Homo sapiens: one gene and its partners. The protein of the gene in region 1 interacts with the protein of each later gene in a biochemical or structural test. Each region holds a gene or a part of one and is shown on either strand. Other genes may lie near its edges.

The links.
Region 2: the proteins of CTTN (region 1) and ASAP1 are reported together in a solved structure, tested with the Homo sapiens proteins (one study listed by IntAct).
Region 3: of the proteins of CTTN (region 1) and FER, one has a biochemical effect on the other in vitro, tested with the Homo sapiens proteins (one study listed by BioGRID).
Region 4: the proteins of CTTN (region 1) and SDC3 form a complex in vitro, tested with the Homo sapiens proteins (one study listed by BioGRID).
Region 5: of the proteins of CTTN (region 1) and PAK2, one has a biochemical effect on the other in vitro, tested with the Homo sapiens proteins (one study listed by IntAct).
Region 6: the proteins of CTTN (region 1) and KCNA2 form a complex in vitro, tested with the Homo sapiens proteins (one study listed by BioGRID).

The regions. Positions count from the first base shown.
Region 1 is NC_000011.10:70,426,029-70,429,528, forward strand, and holds part of CTTN (src substrate cortactin), read left to right. Parts: exon of another isoform or gene 1-59; intron 60-3,022; coding exon 3,023-3,171; intron 3,172-3,500.
Region 2 is NC_000008.11:130,115,175-130,118,674, reverse strand, and holds part of ASAP1 (arf-GAP with SH3 domain, ANK repeat and PH domain-containing protein 1), read left to right. Parts: coding exon 1-186; intron 187-428; coding exon 429-514; intron 515-1,679; coding exon 1,680-1,795; intron 1,796-1,929; coding exon 1,930-1,997; intron 1,998-2,660; coding exon of another isoform or gene 2,661-2,843; exon of another isoform or gene 2,844-2,861; intron 2,862-2,939; coding exon 2,940-3,047; intron 3,048-3,500. UniProt on the Homo sapiens protein: Possesses phosphatidylinositol 4,5-bisphosphate-dependent GTPase-activating protein activity for ARF1 (ADP ribosylation factor 1) and ARF5 and a lesser activity towards ARF6.
Region 3 is NC_000005.10:109,191,897-109,194,618, forward strand, and holds part of FER (tyrosine-protein kinase Fer), read left to right. Parts: 3' UTR 1-2,722. UniProt on the Homo sapiens protein: Tyrosine-protein kinase that acts downstream of cell surface receptors for growth factors and plays a role in the regulation of the actin cytoskeleton, microtubule assembly, lamellipodia formation, cell adhesion, cell migration and chemotaxis.
Region 4 is NC_000001.11:30,870,759-30,874,258, reverse strand, and holds part of SDC3 (syndecan-3), read left to right. Parts: intron 1-881; coding exon 882-1,048; 3' UTR 1,049-3,500. UniProt on the Homo sapiens protein: Cell surface proteoglycan that may bear heparan sulfate. May have a role in the organization of cell shape by affecting the actin cytoskeleton, possibly by transferring signals from the cell surface in a sugar-dependent mechanism.
Region 5 is NC_000003.12:196,809,357-196,812,856, reverse strand, and holds part of PAK2 (serine/threonine-protein kinase PAK 2), read right to left. Parts: intron 2,268-3,500; coding exon 2,204-2,267; intron 639-2,203; coding exon 590-638; intron 119-589; coding exon 6-118; intron 1-5. UniProt on the Homo sapiens protein: Serine/threonine protein kinase that plays a role in a variety of different signaling pathways including cytoskeleton regulation, cell motility, cell cycle progression, apoptosis or proliferation.
Region 6 is NC_000001.11:110,594,283-110,597,782, reverse strand, and holds part of KCNA2 (potassium voltage-gated channel subfamily A member 2), read left to right. Parts: 3' UTR 1-3,500. UniProt on the Homo sapiens protein: Voltage-gated potassium channel that mediates transmembrane potassium transport in excitable membranes, primarily in the brain and the central nervous system, but also in the cardiovascular system.

The DNA of each region.
Region 1 (3,500 bases):
AGGGCCCAGGACGCTTTGACACTTTGACCACTCGTGAGAACCCCCAAGATGTTGATGTATTTGATGACATTGACTATATTAGAAATTAGAGGAATGTGGCCCGGCACAGTGGCTCATGCCTGTAATCCCAGCACTTTGGGAGGCCAAGACGGGCGGATCACGAGGTCAGGAGATCGAGACCATCCTGGCTAACACGATGAAACCCCGTCTCTACTAAAAATACAAAAACAAAATTAGCCAGGCATGGTGGCGGGCGCCTGTAGTCCCAGCTACTCGGGAGGCTGAGACAGGAGAATGGCGTGAACCCAGGAGGCGGAGCTTGCAGTGAGCGGAGTTTGCGCCACTGCACTCCAGCCTGGATGACAGAGCGAGACTCCGTCTCAAAAAAAAAAAAAAAAGAGAGAGAGGAATGGTTTATTTATTTATTTATTTTGAGACCGGGTCTTGCTGTGTCATCCAGGCAGGACTGCTGCCTCAGTCTCCTGGGCTCAAGCAGTCCTCTTGCCTCAGCCTCTGGAGTAGCTGGAACTATAAGCGCATGCCCCCTGCCCAGTTAAATTTTTTTTTTTTTTGAGACAGAGTATCACTTTGTCGCCCAGGCTGGAGTGCAGTGGCGCGGACTCGGCTCACTGCAAGCTCCGCCTCCCATCCCGGGTTCACGGCATTCTCCTGCCTCAAGCCTCCGGAGTAGCTGGGACTACAGGCGCCTGCCACCACGCCCGGCTAATTTTTTTGTTGTTGTTGCTATTTTTTAGTAGAGACGGGGTTTCACCGTGTTAGCCAGGATGGTCTCGATCTCCTGACCTCATGATCTGCCCGCCTCGGCCTCCCAAAGTGCTGGGATTACAGGCATGAGCCACTGTGCCCGGCCAAATTTTTTTATCTTTAGTAGAGATGAGGTCTCACTGTGTTGCCCAGGCTGGTCTTGAATTCCTGAGCTCAAGTGATCCACCTGCCTCGGCCTCTCAAAGTGCTGGGATTACAGGCATGAGCGACATTGGAAAGTTATTAATTGGTTCACTTAAAAAGAATAAACCTTGGCCGGGTGTGGTGGCTCATACCTGTAATCCCAGCACTCTGGGAGGCCGAGGTGGGTGGATCACCTGAGGTCAGGAGTTTGAGACCAGACTGGCCAACATGGTGAAACCCTGTCTCTACTAAAGATACAAAAAGTAGCTGGGCATGGTGGTCCACGCCTGTAATCCCAGCTACTCAGAAGACTGAGGTACGAGAATTGCTTGAACCTGGAGGCAGAGGTCGCAGTGAGCCTTGATTGCGCCACTGCACTCCAGCCTGGGCGACAACAGCTAAACTCCATCTCAAAAAATAAAAATAATAATATAACTGGCCATGCACAGTGGCTCATTCCTGTAATCCCAGCACTTAGTGAGAAGACCGGCATTGTTTTGTTTTGTAAATCTCTTTAATAGAAGATGGCTGCACTCTCACATCTGCCTCTGCAGTCTATCGATGTTACGTTGTTTAGGAAGAACATGTGGAATCACCTAGGTAGGCGATTGGGAAAGGGAGGAGTGTTTGTAACCTTGAGGGCAGCGTGGGTGTCCTTCTGCGACGCCGCCCAAGCGTGCCAGGCAGTGGTGGTCCTGCAGGCCGGCTCCTCTGGCCCTGTGAGGGACTCGCTACCCACTGTGCTTGGGCAGCACTGTGTGTTGGTCATTTGGAAAATGCTGGGTCTCTGAGTTGTGCTCGTCTTCCAGTTGTGGACACTTCTCATTCCACAATACCAAAAAAAATCACATTTGCTGTCATCATCTATTTCATCTGCAGAAGCTGAGTGGAAATCAGCATGTTCATGTGGCAGCCTCACATTTTTCAAAATTCTGTCTTTTACTTGAAAGCTGGAATTTTCCCGTTGGCAACAAATACTCCAGTAATTTTTCTTGACACAATAGGCTTAGTTCATTCACTTGGGAGAAAACTGTTGCCAGATACCCAGCTTTGCATAACCATAGTTGGACTGTCAGTTGTTATTTCAGGGAAAAACGCTATTCCATGAGAAAACAGTCAACTTGCAGCTCTCATGGTTCTATTCATGGTCCTTGAGACACAGACAGCCACCGCCACAGTCCCGGACACAGCAGGGAAGGCTCATGTGTCTTCCCACTTTTTTTTTTTTTTTTTTTTTTTTTTTTTTTGAGACAGAGTCTCGCTCTGTCGCGAGACTGGAGTGCAGTGGCACAATCTCGGCTCACTGCAACCCCTGCCTCCCAGGTTCAAGCGATTCTCCTGCCTCAGCCTCCCGAGTAGCTGGGATTACAGGTGCCTGCCACCAAGCCCAGCTAATTTTTCTATTTTTAGTAGAGACAGGGTTTCACCATGTTGGCCAGGATGGTCTTGATCTCTTGACCTCGTGATCCGCCCACCTTAGCCTCCCAAAGTGCTGGAATTACAGGTGTGAGCCACCATGCCCGGCCATATTCCCCACTTTTGACTTAAATTTTTATCATTTTTTCTTAATAGACACGGGGTCTCACTGTCTTTCCCAGGCTGGTCTCAAACTCCTGATCTCAGTCTTCCCGTCTCAACCTCCCAAAGTGCTGGGATTACAGGCATGAGCCACTGCCCTCTTTTCCATTTTTGTCACACACAATATAAAAAAATGTATACTCTGGTTGAGATTTACTATACTCAGTATACGTCAATTACAGTATACATCAGTACCTTAACTGCTTTATCAAGGACAGATGTCTTTAAGGGAAATTGGCTGTTTTTATTTAAAAAGGTGAGTGTGGTGGTGAAGATACCGTCTTATTTAGAGATCTTCCTGATGCCAGGCTTAGGGGGATTGCCAGTCCCACCAGGTACGCAGTGCCCTGCGGCAGGTGCCCAGTGCTGGCTCCGGACCAGTGGGCTGAGCTGGCAGCTGCAAGAACCTTTCCCTCCTTGGGGGTTAGGGGGATGACCGGTTCCTGGGGAGGTCACTCTGTGTGGGTGGGGCTGTTGTCCAGGAGCAGTGTTTTTGCTGTGCTCAAGGCACACGTCCTCCCTCCTTCCTCTATAGTGACCAGCAAAACAAGTAACATCAGAGCTAACTTTGAAAACCTCGCTAAGGAGAAAGAGCAGGAGGACAGGCGGAAGGCGGAGGCGGAGAGAGCCCAGCGGATGGCCAAGGAGCGGCAGGAGCAGGAAGAGGCCAGGAGGAAGCTGGAGGTGAGTGGCAAGGAGTGGGCCGCAGCGCACCCTCCCTGGGACCTGTGCCGAGGGGATTGGGAGCTCTGGGGCCTGGGCGGGGCTTATTCTCTCCTGGCCAGGTTTTCCTTGGAAGGCATGTTTAACTCTCCTTTAAGGCTCTCCATTAAGGCACTTGTCACTTGCAGCCACACATAGGCTGAGTCTCTGGCCACAATGCTCCAGGCAGCCGGCTAGCGCTATCCTGGTCTTGCCGGTCCAGCCCCAGGACCCGCCAACCTGCCCTGCCCTCTGTCCCTGAGCTGACGGCAGAGTCTTGTCGGCTTCCACCTCCACGGGGCTCCTGTCCA
Region 2 (3,500 bases), on another chromosome or scaffold:
ACTGTACGAAAAGAATATATCACTGCAAAGTATGTAGATCATAGGTTTTCAAGGAAGACCTGTTCAACTTCATCAGCTAAACTAAATGAATTGCTTGAGGCCATCAAATCCAGGGATTTACTTGCACTAATTCAAGTCTATGCAGAAGGGGTAGAGCTAATGGAACCACTGCTGGAACCTGGGCAGGTAAGGCCTCACTAAAATCATTGGATAAAAAGTAATGTGGAAAATCAGTTTAAAAGGTGACTTATTTTAACATTATACCATATAATGAGATTCTTATACATTGGGTGGCCATGTCTAAATCAAGAGAATATGAGAGTGAAGAGGTGTGCTCCTTATAATTACTTGGGGGCAACTGATATATATGAAGCCTCCCTTGGCAGAGCATATTATTGACTTACTTATACTTTTCTTTCCCTTTTTAGGAGCTTGGGGAGACAGCCCTTCACCTTGCCGTCCGAACTGCAGATCAGACATCTCTCCATTTGGTTGACTTCCTTGTACAAAACTGGTATCGTTTTTGTTTTCTCTGTTGAATTACCTGAATATGCCTTATAAATTAACACAAACCAGTCCTATCAGTGGCCTAGATCGGGAATTGGCAAGCTTTTTCTGTGTCATGCTAGATATAAAAATTATTTTTGGCTTTGCAGGCATGAAGTCTCTCTGTCAGAGCTATTCACTTCTGCCATGGTAGTGTGAAAGCAGCCACTGACAATGTGTAAACAAGCAAGTGTGGCTGTATTCCAATGAAACTTTATTATTTTGTTTATAAAAACAGACAGTGAACCAGATATGGCCTACAGGCTGTAGTTTGCCATCTCTTGGCCTTTATAAATGTAAAATTATGTCTGTATCCAAAAATCTGCTGCACAGATTGGACACATTTGCTAACCGTTAGGAGAGGTTAAAAGAGAGAAGACTTAACAGCACAGGTCAACCATATTTGTGAGTTTTCATTGTTCCTAAATTTAATATAAGACAGCAGCAGTGTGTGTGGCTGGATCAATAGCTCATTCAAGTTTGGGATATACTGATGGAAGTATAAGAGTGAATATAGGAAGTTTGGACTTGCTGGATTCTTTATTCTCTTTATCTGTTCTGTAAGCAACAGATGATGAGGAGGAACTAGAGCTCATCTAAAGAAGAAGATCAAAATAGTGAGGGGATTTGAACCCATAGAGGAAAAATGGTACATAGACACAAGCCAAATTGTATAAAAGTCCAGGTTTCTTCCTCAGAGACAATATAGCATAGTGGCTCAAAACATTGGCTCCAGAGATAGATTACCTGTGTTCAAATATCCCTGCTTCACCATCCCTATCTTGAAAATCTTGAAAGCAAGCACTTCAGCCTCTCTGCGCTTCAGGGTTTTTTATCTGTAAAAGCGGTTATTATTAGTATTTACCCCATCATATAGTTGTAAAGATTCAATGAACTAATACATGTAAATGTTAAGAAACAGTGTCTGTCCCATAGGACCTGGCACTCTAAATAAATACTGCCTGTTATCACTGTATTGCTTATAAATCTAGGTTAGAAACATCATAATTTTCTCTATTATAATAATTAGGTCTCAAATTTGACTCAGTTGTCAGCACAAAAATAAGTGGCTAATCTATAGTTTTAAGTTATAAAGTAAGTCATTTTTTTCTAATCATCATCTAATTTTTCAGTGGGAACCTGGATAAGCAGACGGCCCTGGGAAACACAGTTCTACACTACTGTAGTATGTACAGTAAACCTGAGTGTTTGAAGCTTTTGCTCAGGAGCAAGCCCACTGTGGATATAGGTAAGAGTGTGTCTAGTGTCTTCATGACTGTAGTAAGCGTGTGTTGCATGGTACATTGTAATTTGATTATTGTTCCTTGCCTTCTTAAGGTGTTTCCTAGATAATTATGCAAATTAATTTTTTTCCTATTTCAGTTAACCAGGCTGGAGAAACTGCCCTAGACATAGCAAAGAGACTAAAAGCTACCCAGTGTGAAGATCTGGTAAGCAAAAATGGACGTGGGAGATTTATTAGACATTGGCTGCCTTAAAAGTGTCATTCTGAGAAGCTAGAATTGAATATTAAAAATGCAGATTCATTTTTTTTTAACACTTGCTAAAGAAAATCAGATGAGCAATGTGCTACATTAGAAAAAGTGGTAAAATGATAAATTTGTCATCCACATGTTTTTGGAATGCAGTTAAAGGAGGTGAAAGGCATTACACAAGTATTATTACCAGATCGACTTGTGCATTGAGGTCATGCTTTTTATTTCCCAGACCATTAGACTTTCTCTGCAGCTTAATAGTAAAGAATTATTTGAGAAGCTGCTCCAAAAATTGGGCAAGTAAAGCTCAGAGAGTAGTGGTCTTCAAAATGTTAACACACTGTTCTCCCAGCCCCTCCCCTTCCTGTGCACATTCACCTTTTTTGACCCTACTAGTTCTTGCTTAGCAAGTCAGGGCCTTCACATTAGTGTGATTCTCTTGAGTTTCTGCTAAGTGCCAGGTTCCAGGCCCACCAGTTGGGCCTTTTTATTCTTAAAAGAATCCTTTGAGACAATTATCCCTGCTCCCATTTTATGAATGAGAAAATGGGGCCACAGATTGGACTGGGACCTTAAAAGCCTACGTCTTAAACTTCAAAGACTCGTTTTGCCTTTCAGCCAGGAATTTGCAAGTTTGAGGCCCATTTAATAAGAAGAAAGCTTTTAATTTTGGAGACAAGTCATCAAAATAAAGAAGGCTCTGCCTGCAATTGTTTGCATTTCTTCTTGAGCCTGTCACATAGCAGTGCAGCTTGTCTAAGCAGAGTGTTGCCTATAGTACACCTACAGATGATTCATTGAAAACTAGGAATAAGGTGGGATTTGCTCAGTGTTTGTATAATATTGGGATGTTTCAGCATTTAAATTAAAATGGTGCACATTTGCTGTTCCTTCCAGCTTTCCCAGGCTAAATCTGGAAAGTTCAATCCACACGTCCACGTAGAATATGAGTGGAATCTTCGACAGGAGGAGATAGATGAGAGCGATGATGATCTGGATGACAAAGTGAGTGTAAATTATGTCCTCGAATTCTCAACAACTACCCCAACTTTTCTAGTCTGTGTAGACAAGATCCATTTTTGGTGAGATTGATTGATTGTGGTTTTATGATCCAATGTATCAGGGCCATTTATGTTGTTCAGTCCTTATTGGGCACCATTTAACAGCTATATTAAGGTTGTCCAGAGAAACAGAGCCAACAGGATAGGGAGAGAGACAGAGAAATTTTTTTTAAGGAATTGGCTCACATGATTGAAGGAGCTGTCAAGTTCAAAATGCACAGGGCAGGCCAGCAGGCTGGAAATCCCAGCAGGAGTTAATGTTGCAGTCTTCAGGCTAAAGACAGTCTGGAGGCAGCATTCCTTACCCTTTGGGGGACCTCAGTCTTTTTAAGGCCTTTCTTTGGCTGATTAGGTGAGGCACACCCACATCATGAAGGGTAGTTCCCTTGACTCGAAA
Region 3 (2,722 bases), on another chromosome or scaffold:
TACACTCTTAGAGTCCCAAAAATTCCCCTTTAAAAAAAATGCTGTCCTACAGAAGGTGTATAAACTATACCTTAGCCATAATTCAATTTAATGAAATACTACCCCATTAAAAGCCATCCTCCTGCCTCATACCGATTCAGAAATTAAATTCTGAACTTTTAGTGTAGGCATTAGGAATCACTTAGCCACTTAATAAGGACTGAGATTCTTGGGTGGCAGAAAAATCCTGGTGTGCTAGATTCTTAGTCACTTTAAACTGCATAGAAGTAATGAGCATAGGCTTCAGTATATTTAATAAGGTGCTGAGGCAGCAGATTCAAATGCAAAAGAGGGAGGAACCAGTTATTCCAAGGCAGGATGATGCACCCCCACACAGAGTGTGGAAAAATTAAAGTGAAACAAAGATTTGGACAGTGTCATTAGGAAGCCTGAGGAGAACATGCTACAAGGCCAGATCCTGTCCTATGGAAAATAAAAAAGATCAGCAGAACTAAAGCAAAAGCAGTCATCTCCAGTGTGTGGGCCTTAGCAAAGAGTAAACCAAATACCTCTCCTTGTGTTAGGAGCACTGTTATATTCCCAGCTCAGAGATGATTGTGTGCTGGGAAATGCTTATATTCATTATTTCCCAACTAATGCATTTGGACATATGTATTCCAGTTTTTCAAAGACACTACCCAAAGCTTCTTTACATTTGCATTGGTTATATTTAATATTTCTTAAGCTAAGATCACTGATTATCCACACGTTATTAGAAATCTTTGGTTACAGTGAGGCTTAACCTGGGCTAAAGTCTCCTAAATGGGACTACACTTAGATCCGCCCTATTTCACCTTTGGACTAACGTTGACTAAATGGCTCCTAGAGTTACCCACAGAGGGAGCTTACTATGATGAGAGCTACTGTGGGGAAACATAGTATTCAACAGAGAAATGGAAGAATACAAGTAGCAATGTTCCTTGTCTTCAATAACATTTGAGGGAAAGGAATCTAGAAATCCTAAAGCTTAGTCAGGGTGCCTAAGGTAAGACACAAAAAGAAAGAGACATCCAGAAAGGAAGGTTGAAAGGAAATGAAGGGCAGTAACAAAGCACCAATGTAAAATGACCCATAGCCAACAATAAATGCAATAACAATAAAGGAAACTAACCCTCACAAAGGGTTTGAGGAGCTTCCTGCTGTGTGTCCTTAAACAGTGCGTGCCTCTTAAGTCTCTACAACACTTTTTTAAAGGGCATTGAATTGGACATTGGTTTAATTTTTACCTACGCTCCCTATAATCTCAGGAGGTAACCATTATTTAATCAGAATTACCCTTGCTCTGTTTATCTGTGAGGCCTCAGACACAACGGTGGTTCAGCCCTCTCCCTAAGCAGTAGCAAGCTGAGTAATGGCACACATATGTCTAGGATAGCCAGCATTCAGGAAAATTGCTGTGAACCTCCTGTTTTTAATTTTAATATAGAAAAAGTCTTTCAGGTTTGTGACACGAAGACAGATTTAGCTTCCCACTTGTCAGCAAATTTGTAAAAACCTCAAAACAAATGAATATTTGGAATTCACTCTAAGAGATACAAATCCTGAATTTCTAACTATCTTCTCAAATATTACTGAGGCCAGCAAGATGCAAGTGTTCTACAAAATAATGAACTGTTCTAAGTGACAGTGTTGATGCTGGAAGTGGAATGTTATGTTTTCGCTCAGCTGTATTCATTCAGAAAGTTTTTCTTGAACATCTGCCACATGAGGTGCAGAGAATACTACCAGGTGCTAGTTTTTCCAGTATTTGACTTCTGATTACTATTTCCTTTTCTCATCTTTAGTTTTTCAAGATTTTGCTTTACCAAAATAGTAAAGCCTTTATCATCAGCTTATATTGAATAATGTTGTAATTGGTTTCAATCAAAGTTTCTCCTCAGGTACTTGGGGGCCCCTAGCCTTCTAAGGAACTCCCAGGCACCTACTTAACAAGGCCAGCTACACACTCAGTATGTGATAAGCCCCATGATGGATGCAGGTTAGAATTCAAAGACCTGGTTGGAGTCCTAGATGTGGAGACAGGATGATCAGGTCACACTTGTTAGATGACTAACACTATCAGTAGAAGCTCTTGAGAGATTTTCCTAACGCAGCAAGATTTCTGTGAGTAGAGGTATCCTGGGAGGTATCCTGGGAGGCAGCCTATTGACTTGACCAAGTAAGCTGATCAGGTGGCCTCCTCTACCCACTAAAGAAATGTGTAAACACTAGCAATAATTGCTTTATCTTAAACTCCTGGACATACTCAGTTCTTCCATTCCACTGTTCTATTGCCAATACCTTTTGTTGTTTTCTTCACACTCCTCTTGGCAGCAAATGTCTGAAAGTATTTCAATTGTGTAATGTTAAGGAGTTTTTTCATAGCTTCAGAAAAGAGGGCAGCAAATATGAAGCCTTAAGTTCAAAATAAGTCATTCTACCTAGAAATACAGACCCCAGAGCACATTGCATGAAAATACCTGTACTCTGCAGTTCCTCAAAGCAGTATTCTTCCTGAAAAGCCAAACACCACACCTATTTTCCTATTTGCTAAGAATCAGAATAAGCACGTTGTAAATAGTATCCAAAGCAGATTCTAAAATGACATAGTAAGAAGCCAGATTCAAATTGTAACCAAAGAAGACAATAGAAATCCCACTTTACCCCACTGTCATCAGTTAGAACACCCTTGCAAAAACTGTAA
Region 4 (3,500 bases), on another chromosome or scaffold:
ATACCAGAGTGAGACAGCTGGCTGGGCCTCAGTTTGCCTCTAGGAACCCAGAAAGGAGATCAGGGCGTGGTTTCCTAGGAGCCAGATAGGAAGGAAACTTGAGAACTCAACCCCCCAGGACCTGCCTTCTGGCTCCTCCCAACTTTCCTCCTTCCCAATATCCAACCCTGACTTCATGTCCATCTCTAGGTCTTCCCTCAGTGTCCTCTGACCCCTCTGTGGACTCTGACTTTGATCCCTGCTTTCCTGGGCCACACTGGCTGACCCCCTGGGACCTTACTTCCTAGATGCTAATCTCTGACCCATCCTTCAGCTTGACCTTCCCCAGTTTTTGACCCCAGTCCCTGTGGACCTGCCCTGGCCGCATCTAGGGAGTCTGTGGACTCCTGGTTCAAATCCTGGCTTTGCACTCAAGGCAAGGTACTTCACCTCTCCAGTCTTCCTTCTCTTCATCGGTAGAATGGGGATAGTCATTTTGCCCTTAATCAATTCTAAGAGGCACATCTGTTCACATGTTAAGTCTTCTGTAGTTGGGGTATGTCATATTTAGTTAGCAGAGCTTTTTCTTTCCTAGCAGTTATAAAATACTGGGGCATCTTATGAGTGGTGGCATTTTAAATTTGATGAAGCCCTCAGATGACCCCTCCCTCATAGGGCTGGTGTGAGGGTTCAGTGAGTTAGTGTGTTGGGCGATTAGAATGCAGCCAGTGAAGGCCTATGATGGTACCCAGTGCTGGTAGTAGTAGTATTGACTCCATCATCACTCCAACTCAGATCTGGGACTCCCAGCCCTCTCCTCACCCTGGCCCCCACCCCTGAGGACCCTTTGCCCTGGTTCTACCCTGCCTCTGGGCCTTGACCTGTGCCCTCTTCTTCCACAGCTGTGATTGTGGGCGGGGTGGTGGGCGCCCTCTTTGCTGCCTTCTTGGTCACACTGCTCATCTATCGTATGAAGAAAAAGGATGAGGGCAGCTACACGCTGGAGGAACCCAAGCAGGCGAGCGTCACATACCAGAAGCCTGACAAGCAGGAGGAGTTCTATGCCTAGTGGAGCCACAGTGCCTCCCTGCAGCCTCAACACCACCCTGCTGTCCAGTCCCCAGCCTGGCCCCACCAGCCCAAGCCTGGGACTGGGCCTGGAACCTGGCCCCAGTTCTTCTCTGCCCTCTCTCCCAAGGTCTGCCCAGGCTGCCAGCCTCACACAGATCTTCCCCGAGGAAGAGGGGCTGCTGCCATCTGCCCCAGACTGTGCCCTTACGAGCTCATCTCTTGTTCCCCTCATCCCTGCCACCAGTCTGGGGCTTCAGGACCTCATGTCAGATGGATGGGAGGAAGAAAGCTCCTGATTGGCTGGTGGTGGAAGAAAGGGTGGGGCTTGAGATGAGCCTGAGCCCTGACTTGGCACCCACAGTGCTCACTGAGATCTCCTTTTTGGGGCAGAGAGGCACTCAGGCTGGTTTCCAGGACAAACATTTGGTAAACACAGCCCTTGAAATCATCTAGACACTGCAACCTCTTGCTCGTATCCCAGGGCCTCTCTCTAGCTGGGTGAGAGGGTGTCCCTTGTCACCAGCCTGTTTTGTCCTGGTCTCTCTGGGGTTGTTGAATCTCTCCTCTTGCCTGCCAAGTACACATGTACCCAGACTTCATTTCTTTCTGCATCTTCCCCCAAGAAACAGCTTCCTGAGGGTGCTGGGGCAGCCACTGGTGAGGAGGGGCTGCTCTGATGTCCCTCCTATGAGGGGACTCTGCACAGACACCATTGCCCACACTATCACCATATTTTCACTCAGTCACACACAAGACAAAAGCATGCAATGACAAAACCATACGCAATCCTGACCGCCCAGCCAATCAAGACATATCACAGAACACACGCGTCCTTCCAAGAATGTTTATCCTCATGCATCACTTACACACCCCCAGACACGTACTGCAATGCAAGTCACTAGTCATGGTCACATGACAGTGACAGTGTGGCCTCCTCCTACCCCAAATACACCCACACTCTGGCACCACACACATTGTCTCCAGCTTTCAGGCTTACTGGGGAGGGTGGAATCGAGCCAGAACAATCAGCCCATATTGGGTCCCCCTAAGTTGCCCCGTCATACTCAGTCCCATGCCATGGTGCCCACACCAACCATGCAGCCGCCAACCCCAGCCAGTGTCAGACACAATCCCATGTGGATGCACAGTCTCACTCCACATGACCTGCTCTCAATGCTGGAGGGAAACAGGCAGGCCCTTGCCTTTCTCGGAAAAAGTGTGGGGCCACAGCCCTTTTAGGGCATTGCATGCAGGTGGGCCTGGCTTCACCCCTACCTGCTTCCTCCCCACCGCAGCTGGCAGAGGGGGAGGTTTGGGGCCAGACCCCCACTAGCTGGGAGCCTGGGGGCTCCTCTAAGGCTGAGGAAGGAAATTTGGCCCCAGGTTGTTGGGGGGTCTTGGGTCTCCCAGGACGGAAGGCCCAGGGCAGGGAGGGGGCATGTGGTTGGGCTCCTTTATCTCCCTGTGTCCCCTTCCTGCTTTGAGCTAGGGGGCTGACTCTGCCTCCCAGGACACAAGTCTCCAAAGTGCCTGTGAGGGCGGGCCCTCCGCACCCTCTGCCCTCTGCCTGGCAGGCCAACCTCAGCCCACCTGCCCAGAGGCCCTCCCTGTGGACACCCCCTCACCTATTTGGCCAAACAATTCTGGCTGCAGCTTCAGGGGCCATGGCTGGAAGCAGCCCCTGCAGATCCCTCAGGCCCCGAGGTCAGGGTTTGAGGGATGAGACCAGGTGATAGTGGGGGAGGGGTTACTTCCTTTGTTACCTAGCAAGTAGGGCTATTTCCATCGGTATTTTAAATGTGGGGTCACAGATCTTTTGGGGAGGGTGTGCTTGGCAGGGGGCCTCTTGGAGCCAAAGGGATGTGGTGTGAGTTGCGATTGGCTGGCACTCACACCCCCACCCCTCACCCACATCCCAGATTCAAGTCAGGAAGGCAGGTTTTATTTCAGGGCCCTTTTCAAGATGCCCTGGCAGCAGATTTCTGCAGGATGAGGGGTAGCGGTGTGTAGGCAGTGAGGGGGAGGTTCCAGGGGCTGTCCCACAGCCTGTCTTTTCCAGGCTGGGCTCCATCTTCCAGTCCCAAAACCCTCCTTCACAGGGCCCAGAGGCTTGTGAGGAAGCCAGGTGGACCCAGCCTTAGAAGAGTGGGCATGGGGGGCCCCTGATATCTGGAGGGGGCGGGTTGGCCTCAGTCATCTTTGGAGCAGAAGGGCTGGGTCCTGGGGCCACAGACCACAAGGCTCAGCCTCCCTACCCTGCTCCCTGGGGTGCTGCTGTCTTGGAGAGCACAGCTCTGGTGAGACGGCCTGGGCAGGCCGAGGCTGAGAAACCAGGGAGGATAGAGGAGAAAAGGGCTTGGGCCCCCAGCCCCAGAAGATGCTGGACCCCAGGTGGGAGACCCAACAGTGGGTGCAGTTTCTCAGTAGGGCTGGAGCCAATGGTGGGGGTG
Region 5 (3,500 bases), on another chromosome or scaffold:
CTTACCTGTCCAAAAAGTTAACGATGTTGGGATTTTTCAATTCTTTCATCACCAGAATCTCGTTAATGATCAGTTCCTTCTTTGGCTGTTTCTGTAAATTAATTTGTTTGATAGCAACCTATAATGAAAACAGGATTGAAAAAAACCAGGTTTAGGAATTCTCTTAGAAAATTACAAACCCCAAGCAGTTGATAACTCACGGTACGTGTACTGTATTACACCATGCTATTACTCCCAGGTGGCACCTTGCCTTGCACACTGCCTGTGCACAATGCTTTGTAATGTTTAGAACCTAGTTTTAGATTTATCTTGAAGTTGATTAATACACCCACAGTCAGTCCAATACTAAGAATTAATCCTCTTTTCACTTCAAGCTGAGGAAACAATTTTTAAGTATTTGCTTATTTATGACATTGAACTCATAAGTCCTTCCCCGCCTTACTGACAGAAGTGCTATAAACATACGTAGAGCGATTCTTACAACGGGCTCAACTTAAAAGAGGTTCCTATTGCTTCTTCCCAGCTTCATCTAGTTTCCACCTATATGACAAAATAATGGTAACACCCAGGATTACAACAAAGTAACTACCTCCTGTCCCAGTGCAACGTCAGTAGCAGTGAAAACTGTACCAGAAGCCCTAGAGGGAGAAAACACACAACCAGATTTAAGGTTGATAAATCACTAGCATTTGCAATATCCAAAGACTTTACACTTCAAGCAATTGAAAAAGAATTAAAGAACAGGATGACCTAACGTGCTTAAAAGGAGTAAAAGCAAAAACCTGAGGAAAGGGGGTGGGGGAAGAAAGAGACAATCCTTACGGCAAAACTTATGTGTGAAATATTTCAGACCTACAAAAATGTAGGGAAAAAAGAGCAGGAAAAAAATTATATAACATATACTTAAGGATACACTTCCCTGATTAAGATACAAATAACTGTAAATAATTTGAAGATTCCCATAAGCCCTTTCCGACAGCAGTCTCCTTCCTCCCAAAGGTGATCTGTATTTGGTGTTTATCCTGTATTTGGTGTTCATCATTTTCATGCATTTCTCCATACTTTTAACTACAAAGGACGCAGATATGTATCCCTATAAAATATACTTTGTCTAATTTTTAAACGTCATATAGTTTCATTTCACATATTATTCTGCAACTTGCTTTTGTGACTCAACACTGGATTTGTGATGGTCATCCATATGGATAGGTATTGCTTGTTCATTCATGCTCAAAAATAGTAAGATAATCTTCAATTCTCTTTCATAAAACCAGTGCTGCAATTGAATTTAGCTGTTAGGAAGAAATTCAGGCCTGGTGCAGTGGCTCACACCTGTAATCCCAACACTTTGGGAGGCTGAGGCAGAAGAATCGTTTGAACCCGGGAGGCAGAGGTTGCAGTGAGCTGAGATTATGTCACTGCACTCCAGCCTGAGTGACAGACTCCGCCAAAAAAAAAAAAAAAAAAAAAGGGAAGGAAGGAAGAGAAGGAAGGGAAGGGAGGGAAGGAAGGGAGGGAAGGGAGGGAAGGGAAGGAAGGAAAGGAAGGGAAGGAAGGGAGGGAGGGAAGGGAGGGAAGGGAGGGAAGGGAAGGAAGGGAGGGAGGGGAGGGAGGGAAGGAAGGGAAGGGAAGGGAGGGAGGGAAGGGAAGGAAGGGAGGAAGGAATTCATATGGAAGTTTTCAAAAATGGCTTAAGCCCTCACTCTAAATTCACAGAATGCTTTCCAGAGTTTAATAACATTAAAAATTTAGGTGTTTATTTGCTTCCAAGCAACAGAAAAAAGGAGTTTAGTTAGTATACTTTAAAAATACAAATTACACAACAAAATCAGAAGATCAGTAGACTCAAAAGTCAATACACAATGACATGATTTAAATGCATTTTTTATTGCTTATAGTCATGCAGTAAATATTCTTATTGTCTTTTAAATATATTTTATGGGCAATTCTTCCCTCTAATTATCACAGATGGGAAATGACACTTAAGAAAAAATAATGATACACAGTCATTGCTAACAACTAGTACAGTTTTTTAACAGCATCTACAAATAACTGCATTATTTATTTACACAAATCCCCCAAGGGTACCACTCACAGAATACTATATAAGTACTTGATGTCGGCAGGCAAAATAAACATCATGCTATAAAGCCAGGAAATACTGAATACTGAATATTATCGTAATACAGTCACAAATACTTACCCTTGTCCAATTTTTTCATATCTTGTATATTTTTTCTTAGGGTCACCTATGCTCACGATAGTTCCTAGAATAAACAAAAAGCTGGAAGCTCAGTCAAGCATTTTAAGTGTAAATTGATTGTGATATTATTATTCCTTTTAATGAACTCCACTGTTTTTATAAGTGATTTTCAAACATAATACTAAGTTCCAAAAATAACAGGTTTCAAACACAAAACACTAAAGAAACTTAAATACATAATAAAAGTTTAAAAGTATCAGAAACAAGACACATTAAAAGTTTAAAAGTAACAGAAACAAGAAGACACATTATTTCCATTAGGTTAGACCTCCTAACTAATCATTTGCTCAATAATGGTCACATTTTGAAAAGACTGTACCAGTTTGTCAGAGATTAATTAGGTTCTCAGATGTTCAGCTTTAGAATCAGGTAATCTCAAGAAAATAGACATATTTGAATATAAAATAGATATATTTGAATATAGAAATAGATATATTTGAATATATCTATTAATAGGTAAGTTTGAGACTACTTAGTATTATAAATAATAAAGGCTATCTAAACCCTAAATGGTCTTTCTGACTCTTCCAGTATACATTTCATCTTTCAATATATTTAGAAAACCACTTATTACCATAAAAATTACTATGCTCTGACATAAACTAATCATATGTTTGTTTTAGGAAAGTTCAAAGTCACAAGAAAGAGGTTTTAAAATTAGGAAGTTGGACATAAAATCCTAACTTATATTCTTATTACTAGTAAGAAAAACCACATTAAACTTTCACTTGCTCAAGGTAAAAAAGGACAGGACCATATCAAGGAAACTGACATAAATAGTTTTATGTAGGTACCCAACCTCAAGTCAACAAGCAAAGAAACAGGATCAATAATAAGAGGCTAAGAACAAAAAGATACCAAAAAGACTGGGGATGTGACAGCTAAAGGTCACAACTAAATGATGACAATTAGGATTCTAGTTAATTTTTTTTTTTTTTTTAAGTAGCAGCTCTCCTAAAATAATTCTTATATGCTCATAGAGTAACAGAGCAGGCCAGGTGTGGTGACTCATGCCTGAGGTCAGGAGTTTGAGACCAGCCCAGCCAACATGGTGAAACCCCATCTCTACTAAAACTACAAAAATTAGCGGGGTGTGGTGGCGCACACCTGTAGCCCCAGCTACTCGGGAGGCTGAGGCAGAAGAAACGCTTGAACTGGAGAGGCAGAGATTGCAGTGAGCCACGCCACTGCACTCCAGCCTGGGTGACAGAGCGAGACTCTGTCTCAAAAAAAAAAA
Region 6 (3,500 bases), on another chromosome or scaffold:
GTTTTCTTTAGCAATAGCTCTTTCAAAATCTTGCTCTCAGGACTGAAAAGTGATAGATAGTACCTGGATTATCAGATAATGCCCTTGACTTCTGGGGGCTCATTCACAGTCTCTGTAGTTTCTTCTTCTTCCCACGTGTTCACATGACTCCTGTCCTCTTGAGATCTGACCTCCTTCTGGAATGGACACATATGCTAAGATGCAGTGTATGCACAAGGAAGGCCTGTGAGAGGGCTTTGTCACTTTGTCTCCTTCCTGTGTGCACCTCTCTGTCTCCATGTGTGTCTCTGTCCCCTCTCCCTCTGTCTCCCCATTTCTGCCTGCTGTCATACAGCATCCTTACAACCTCTAGGCATGAAAATCCTAAGTTTGTGTGACCTTTTCAGCCCATTTTGTTGACTTTCCCTCAGTCTGGCAGATGTAATGGAAGCCTACACGAAAGCACTTCCCAATAGATAAGAATAAAGCATCCTGAGCCATTACAGAAGATCATTTCCATGCACTAAAAGCCATTACTTGATCCTTTTGCTTCCCCTTCTCCCTTCCCCAGGGAGACGGATGCTGAGGGAATGTGGCCTGGAGGTTTGCACTTGGGATCAGTAGCCTGGGCAGATTTGGGAATTGCCCTCTGACTCTCTTTCAAAATAAGCTGACTTGCTCAACCAAAGGGACTCCGTGAGAGCTGCAGAAGGAAGCAGGTTCTTGTGGGTTTCAGTAGAAGTCTACAGGGATAGAAGTTTGGGTGGTTAGGGCATGACATTAGTGAAATAAAGACTCTACCACCCGCTAGAGTGTGCAGCTGCACAAATATTTGCACACATAGCCAGGGGCTTCAGAAGAGTCCCCTTTCCTAACATCTGTGAGCTTAAATGTTCAGACTGGACAATCAGGGAAGGCTGGCAACCCCAGGGTCCCATTCCATCCTTTTTTGATCTACCTTGCTCTATACACATATGTACAGCAAAACCTCAGTTAACTGATGGGGAAACCTCAGGGACAGGAACATCCTGATTGCTTTGCAATTTTGGTTATTTGAGTGGGAATGGGAAAGCATGTCTGGTTCAACCTTTGTTATTGAGAAAAATATTTCCTAAGTAGGTTAGCATAACTTTCCTGCCTTAGTTAAGTAGAGTGTTTGAAGATAACAGGGACCTTGCCTTGCTCAGGGTCAACATTGTAAACCTCAATGCTTATTGTACAGTAGTGGACATAGGTAGAGAAGACCAAAGAGACAGGCTGAATGGCTGCTGGCTACAAGACAGGCCTGGAAATGGGCCACTGGGGCACATCCTGGCTCATCGGAGCCCTTGCTGTCATTTGCCTCTTTCTACTGAAAGGATAGTAAGAAAACATAATTCTTGTCAATCGAGGTTTTGGTTAATTGGTCCTGAGTTTTTAGAGGTTTTCCATATATACATATATTTATGTGTGTATATATATATATATAGTATATGTATATATGTATACTATTTTTAAATTATAGAATTATACATTGACCAATCTCCTTAGTTTCACTTATGTGGAATAAATTTGGCAATCCAAGGAATAAACTGCATTTATGTGCATTTTTTGAATGACCTCCTTTGCATTCTTTTCACCTCTCCAGTTCTACTCTTTTTTTTTCTGCTTAGGGACCTCTCTAGAAGGCAGATCTTTCATAAAAAAAGAACAGGCTACAGGATCACCTCTTTCCTTTCCCTCCCAGGTGGCTGCCTGACTCAGGGATAAAAGGGAAGTCTGATCTAACAGCCAGGTGCTTTAGCCTTTCTTCTGTCTGCCCTGGTTGGCTATAACCTCATCACTGAGGATCAGAAAAGTTATTCCAAACTTTGTACTCGAGGGGAGTGGAAAGCTTGAAGACCTGGCAAAGGATTTATCTATTTAGCATTCTCTTTGTCATTGGTGGTGCCCTAGGTTTGAGGTTTGTGAGATCTGAAAGTAACATTCCAATGAAGAACTAAAGCACATCTCTGCCACACAGAAGGTGAGGTTTGTGGCAATCAATGGAACTAACAAATCCATTCTGTTTTTTATTATGACTAAACCTAAGTTGAGGGTGTGGGTATTAGAGCAGCTGAAATTCAGTTGCCTCTTTGGGGGTAAGCTGTACACATCACTCAAGAAACAGCTGGATGCAAGCTAAAACCTGCTCTCATTCTCCCTCTTGCCTGCTAGTGTGTTAGATCCATGGAAGACAGTTTCTCTCAGCCTCACCTCTTGCATTTGACTGTTGCTTTCTACCTAGATGGGAGTGGGAGGGATTTTTCACTGTATCTGGAGCAATTGAAGTGGTGCAGGGGTGTCTGCCATCTCCCCACACCCACAGAAGCCCTCCAGTCTGGCTATGTTAGTTGTGATCAGGCAGCAGAAGCCCATAACCCAGACTTGACATGACCAGCTGGTGCACTGAGGCAGTTGAGGTGGCCTGTCTGGATGGCTACTTCTTGTACTTCATGAACCTCAGCATGGAAATGGATATAACTTTCTGTGCTCCTCTGCACTCCTAAAATAGTCTAATATGTTCCAGATGAGTTTGCAGCTGAGAACTCCCTGCATCATTCCACTGATGGATGCACAGGGCATGATTATGTAATAATGTGGACAGCTACTGCAACATCTAGATCATTGAGGGCAGTGTAGATGTGGCTGTGTGCTAGGACCCTTGGTAGCTATCCAGAGGACTCAGTCTGGTGTCTTTCTGAGTCTCTGTGAGAGGCCTCTAAGCCCTGCTTCTCCTTGAAAATGATTCCCTAGACACCGAATGCCTTGTTTGTATGAGTGAATAAATGCTCTGGGCTGCTAGAGAAAGCAATAGGAGGAGCTGGGAGGAAGAGAATATTCAGGGGCGCACTTTGCTACCAAACAATTTCCATGTCAGCTGCTAACATTACTGCCTTTTTAGCCTATGAAGTGTAGGGCAAGGACTTTGACCTGCCAGGTGGGGCTGGAAAGGAGCACATCAGCTCCAGGCTAAGAAATGGGATAGAAAAGCAAGAAGAGAGGCCTGGCTGGCTTTGGCGGGGGTGAGTCTCAGCTCCTGAGGGTTTGAACATGCTCTGTGCTTGCCCCAGTTCTGCCTTCACGTGGGATCCAGCGACCCAGTTTCCTTTTGTTGTCGTGCTTGGATGGTTCCTTCATTTGAAGGGCCCCAGGAAGCTGGAAAGTCCCATGATCAAGCTCTAGCCTGCTGAGCAAACAATACCCCAGCCAAATTGGCCTCTTCCTGGTTTTCTGCATCCCTGCACCCCTCTCTCCACTAAGGATAATCTTGGAACAGTTGCGATTAATGGTGCCAGCAATCAAGGAAGATTCTCTAGTTTTCATCAGGGACATAGCTGTAAAGCTCATGAGTGGAGGATGCTATTTCCTTTTCCAGACCTGTGTGCTTATGTGCTTATATAGGCTGCCTCTGGAGACTTTATATTGTGTGTGATGTGTGTGTATATATATATACACACACATATATATATATATGTATATATATATATAGAGAGAGAGAG